2 separate regions of the Homo sapiens genome follow, and region 2 is linked to region 1. The links come from fine-mapping of genetic effects on gene expression. A gene starts in region 1. The other region holds a variant in brackets. All regions are shown on one strand. Distances are from middle to middle.

Evidence for each region. PIP is the estimated chance that this variant, and not a neighbour inherited with it, causes the effect.
Region 2: its variant is fine-mapped to the expression of NOA1 in aorta (GTEx, PIP 0.97).

The regions. Positions count from the first base shown.
Region 1 is chr4:56,976,282-56,979,189 of GRCh38, forward strand. NOA1 (nitric oxide associated 1) reads right to left here and starts at 1,325. Exons shown (of 7, transcript NM_032313.4): 1 at 161-1,325. The coding sequence starts at 1,304. POLR2B (RNA polymerase II subunit B) reads left to right here and starts at 2,615. Exons shown (of 25, transcript NM_000938.3): 1 at 2,615-2,723. The coding sequence starts at 2,705. RefSeq lists enhancers at 558-617, 998-1,067, 2,889-2,908 and a silencer at 818-897.
Region 2 is chr4:56,852,117-56,855,024 of GRCh38, forward strand. No RefSeq gene overlaps it. Among named protein-coding and RNA genes, the nearest start is that of SPINK2, 32 kb to the left of the region's middle. The variant A/C (reference allele first, on the strand shown) is at 1,484.

The DNA of each region.
Region 1 (2,908 bases):
ACACAGAAGAGAGGTGTGACCAGAGTGGGGAGAGAATTTGTAAAGGGAAGGGTACAGGCAGCCCGCAGTGGACATTAAGGGAGGATGTACTCGGTGCCTCGGCCAGGACCAGACGTCCACCTTGCCAGGAAACGAAGAGGGCGAGCCTCCTAAAACTCACCTGGCCAAGGGGAGATGGTGGCTCTGTCGATGGCCTCGGAGCCCTTGGCAGTGCAGTAATCGGACTCCAGGAGCGTGTTAAAGAGAGTGGATTTGCCGGCGTTGGTGGCGCCCACTAAGTAGACGTCCCCACGGTAGCGCCAGGAGCGCTGAAGGGCAGAGATCAACTCTTCCACTCCATAGCCGGTCTTGGCGCTGATCAGCCGCACGTCCCTGACCACTGTGCGGGACCAGTTCGGCGGATTCGGATTCTCCCCGTCCTGTGGCTCGTCCTTGACGGGGCGCTGTGGCCCTTGGTGGCCAGGGGCCAGCAGGAGCCCGGCGCGGGCACAGTCCTCCCACAGTCGCTCCCGCAGCCTCTGCCGGTAGCCAGGAGCATCCTGGGGCAGGAGGTCCACTTTGTTTCCCAGCACGATCAGCTGCTTGGGGCCCACCAGCGCGGGCAAGTCGGGCAGCAGGGCGTCGGGCAGGTCCAGCAGGTCCACCATGTAGAGCACCAGGGAGGGGCCGGGCCGCCGCAACGCGGCGCTCACCAGCTCCAGGTACTGCTCGCGGCTCACCTGCAGGCGTAGAGCGCGCCGGTGGTGCGACAGCAGCCAGCAGCGCTGGCACACGGTCCGTGCCAGCCCGCCGTCTGCCTCCGCCGTGCGGAGGAACTTCTCTCGGGGCAGGTAGCCGGGCACTCCGGCGTCCTGGCAGTGCAGCTCTGCCCCACAGCCCGAGCAGTTCACGCCGCTGGGCGGCAATGCCGGGTCCGGGTGCCCCACGACCGGGTGCTCCCGGGACCTGGCCCGTAGGTTTTGCTGTCGCCGCTCCTCCCGCCGCTGCTGCCTCTGTCGCTCCTCCTCCTCCTGCTGTTGCTGGAGCTCCTGCAGCTGCTTTTCGCGGGTGGGTTGCGGCTCCGGATCCAGGATGTACTCCGGGAACAGAAAACGCTCCTGCATGTCACCACCTTCTCCAAAGCCCTCCGTGTCCACGGGGTCATAAGGAAGCTCGCGTCCCAGACTCGATGAGTGCTGGAAGGAGGAGGCGGCAGCGCACCTCCTCTCCAGGAGCGGCTCCCGGAGGCCATGGCGCGCTGCCGTGGGAGCGGATCCACGAAGGAAAAGGCTCAGCAGCCTGAACGGTAGGCGAGCGGGCAGCATGAGGAAGTAGCTCCAAAGGGGCGGAGCCACCAGCGCGCACGCGCACTAGGGTCCGAGGCGCGCATTTGACCCGAGACGAAAGCGCGTGGGTACTTGGGAGCTGTCCTGGTTGGTTTTGCGTCTAATCCCGTCAGTTCTCGCGATTTAAGCTCTGAGACTGAGAACCTACTTAAAGCTATGGCAAAGGCACTGGAGGATTGAGCTAGGTGGGCAGAAAAGAGCAGTGAGTGTTTTGGGTTTTTTCACTTTCAGGCTTAACGCCTCACTGCTAGCACAAGCCGCCCTTAATAAATCACACTTAAAAAGGAGCTTCCGGGGTCGGGCGCGGTGGCTCACGCCTGTAATCCCAGCAATTTGGGAGGCCGAGGCGGGCGGATCATGAGGTCAGGAGATCGAGACCATCCTGGCTTACACGGTGAAACCCCCATCTCTGCTAAAAATACAAAAAATTAGCCAGGCGTGGTGGCGGGCGCCTGTAGTCCCAGCTACTCGGGAGGCTGAGGCAGGAGAATGGCTTGAACGCGGGAGGCGGAGGTTGCAGTGAGCCGAGATCGCGCCACTGCACTCCAGCCTGGGCGACAGAGCGAGCCTGTCTCAAAAAAACAAAACAAAACAAAAACAGAAAGGAGCTTCCGGCCGGGCGCGTGGCTCACGCCTGTAATCCCAGCACTTTGGGAGGCCGAGGCGGGTGGATCACCTGAGGTCAGCAGTTCGAGACCAGCCTGGCCAACGTGGTGAAACCCCGTCTCTACTAAAAATACAAAAATTACCCGGGCGTGGTGACCCTTGCCTGTAATCCCAGCTATTTGGGAGGCCGAGGCAGGAGAATCGCTTGAACCCGGGAGACGGAGGTTGCAGTGAGCCGAGATCGCTCCACTGCACTCCAGCCTGGGCGACAGAGCGAGACTCCATTTCAAAAAATAATAAATAAATAAAAATAAAAAATAGCTTCGTGTTTTGGTCCTTATAAAGGCAAATAAATTGAGCATCCCAATGTTGCGGATTCACAGGACGAACACTTTTTAATAATAAGTATACCTGGTTTTGTTTTCAGGTGTCGTTATTTGTGCAACAACATTGAAAAACAAGCAGAAATAAAACATTGACGGAACGGATACGACCGCAGATTGCGGGAGCTGTCCTCTCAATCAGCCCGGCAGCGGCGGCCCACAATTTACGCGTGTGCAACCCTAACCCCGGCCCAAGCTTGACCTACAATTTGCGCAGGCGCAGATCCTAACTTTGGCGTCCCTGTGGGCGGCCTTTGGTGTGAGACGCGTGGTATTCTGGGAACGTCGGAGACGGAAGTTACTTCGTCTTTAGCTCCTGGCGCTGCTGGCTTCTGGGCGGTTTTTGTCTTTTGATTTCAAGAGTTAGGAGCTCGAGAACCGTTTGGCAATATGTACGACGCGGATGAGGGTAGGTGAACGCTCAAAACACACGCCGTGGCGGTCCATTTAAGCAGGAAAGCGTTGGGAACTGATTGGATTGAGGATTTGGGGCCTTCCCATGCGCCGGCTGCACAGTCCCCAGCCTTGTTCCCACACTTACCAGGCCGGGAACGAAACTGGGGTAGGGAGAGGCGGAGGGTGCAGGGAACATAG
Region 2 (2,908 bases), 120 kb before region 1:
GTTCAATATTTGCTAATTCAGTGTTTATGGCAACTTTATAGAATATAACTACTGCAAGTAACAAGAATTTACAGATTAGTGTTTGTATCTAAAGCTATGACTTTTCTTCTGAGCTAGGCCTTAAATGTGTCTCAGAATTCTAATATGTAGACTGTGCCTACGTAAGCTATGATCTGTCAGCTCCAAACCCAGAATTACTTTCCCAGTACCTTGAATCCTATATGCCAGTGGATTTTTTTTTTTCAGACGGAATCTCGCTCTGTTGCCCAGGCCAACCTCTCTGCTTCAGCCTGCCAAGTAGCTGGGATTACAGGTGCCAGGCGCCTGCCACCACACCCAGCTAATTTTTTTTGTATTTTTAGTAGAGACAAAGTTTTACCATCTTGGCCAGGCTGGTCTTGAACTCCTGACCTTGTGAACCACCTGCCTTGGCCTCCCAAAGTGCTGGGATTACAGGTATGAGCCACCGCGCCCGGCCCATGCCAGTGGTTTTGAAACCTCCATGCTGGACTTTGAGATGGTGAGTCTAGAACTCTACAAACTACATTTATTCTTTGTCAGCCAGCTTCTGTTAGGGTCAGTTAGTAGGGGGCACTAGAGAAACATGTGAAGGAGGATGGGGGAGCAGGACCAGGCTCCTTCCTACTGCATGGTTCCTGTCAGAGTCTGTCATGGCATTGACATCTTATAAAAAACACAAGCCATCATAAGAATGCTTTTCGGCTGGGCACGGTGGCTCATGCCTGTAATCCCAGCACTTTGGAAGGCCGAGGCGGGCAGATCACTTGAGGTCAGGAGTTCAAGACTAGCTTGGTGAACATGGTGAAACCCGTCTCTACTAAAAATAGAAAAAAGTAGCTGGGTGTGGTGATGCGCACCTGTAATCCCAGCCACTTGGGAAGCTGAGGCAGGAGGATATCTTGAACCCAGGAGGCAGAGGTTGCAGTGAGCTGAGATAGTGTCATCCATTGCACTCCAGCCTGGCAATAGAGTGAGACTCCATCTCAAAAAAAAAAAAAAAAAAAAAAAGGACCAGGCACAGTGGCTCATGCCTGTACGCCTGTAATGCCAGCACTTTGGGAGGTTGACATGGGGAATTCAAGACCAGCCTGACCAACATGCCAACATGGCAAGACCCGGTCTCTACTAAAAATACAAAATTAGCTGAGCGTGGTGGTGCGTGCCTGTAATCCCAGCTACTCAGGAGGCTGAGGCAGGAGAATCGCTTGAACCTAGGAGGCAGAGGTTCTGGTGAGCAAAGATCGCGCCATTGCATTCCAGTTTGGGTAACAAGAGCGAAATTCTGTCTTAAAAATAATAATAATAAATAATAAATAACAATAATTATGGAATTGGCCAGGCACAGTGGCTTACGTTTGCAGTCCTACCACTTTAGAAGGCCAAGGCAGGAGGATCACTTGAGCCCAGGAGTTCGAGACCAGCTTGGGCAACATAGTGAGACCCCGTCTCTAAAAGAAAAGAA[A/C]AGAACAGAACAGAACAGAACAGAACTAAAAGGACTAAAATAATTATGGAGTTGTATCATACACCCTAATAGCTGGACATTTAGGTTCACTGCAGCCTCTGCCTCCCAGGTTCAAGCAATTCTCCTCCCTTAGCCTCCTGAGTACCTGGGATTACAGGCATGCGCCATCATGCCTGGCTAATTTTTGTATTTTTAGTAGAGATGGGGTTTCACCACGTTGGTCAGGCTAGTCTTGAACTCCTAACCTCAAGTGATCCACCCACCTTGGCCTCCCAAAGTGCTAGGATTATAGGCGTGAGCCACCACGCCTCGCCTATTTATTTTTATTTGTATAAAAGTAAGGAGTACAAGTGCAGTTTTGATACGTGGATATATTGCATAGTGGTGAAATCTGGGCTTTTAGTATAACTATCAACCAAATAGTGTGGGTTGATTGACCAACCTGGCCAATATAGTGTACATTGTACCCATTAAGTAATTTCTCAACATTTAGACATTTAATGCTGTCTTTATAATAACTGTGAATAGCAGAAAAATCAAGAGAAAATTCAAAACCAAACAGTAAAATGTACAAAAGATAAGCATTAAGAAATTTCTAGACACTTTCATGGTCTCAAAATATCTTTTGTTTTGTTTTGTTTTGTTTTGTTTTTTGTTTTTGAGACCGAGTCTCACTCTATTGCCCAGGCTGGAGTGCAGTAGTGCAATCTCGACTCACTGCAATCTCTGCCTTCTGGATTCAAGCAATTCTCATGCCTCAGCCTCCCAAGTAGCTGGAATTATAGGTGCCCACCATTATGCCCAGCTAATTTTTGAATTTTTGGTAGAGACGGGGTTTTGCCATGTTGGCCAGGCTGGTCTTGAACTCCTGATCTCAAATGATCTGCCCGCCTTGGCCTCCCAAAGTGCTAGGATTACAGGCTTGAGCCACTGCGCCTGGCCTGGTCTCAAAATATCTTGCCATTGATTGCTTATTAATTGCACACAGAAATAAAAAATAAAAATAAAATAAAACTAATTGTATGGCGCAAAATAGTGGAGAAACTGGACAACATCTTGTCTATGTATCCAAAATTAACATCGCCAGCTGGGTGTGGTGGCTCACATCTGTAATCCCAGCACTTTGGGAGCCAAGAGGCAGGTGGATCACTTGAGGCCAGGAGTTCAAGAACAGCCTGGCCAACATGGCAAAAACAGGCATGGTGGCTCATGCCTGTAATCCTAGCACTTTGGGAGGCCAAGGTAGGAGGAATGCTTGAGGCCAAGAGTTCAAGACCAACTTGGTCAATATAGTGAGACCCCATCTCTAATAATCTTAAAAAAAATTTTAATTAAAAATAAAAAATGAAGACATACATCATATTATTAAAGTAAAGAAACTATCTGTGGCTGGGTGCGGTGGCTCATGCCTGTAATCTCAGCAAC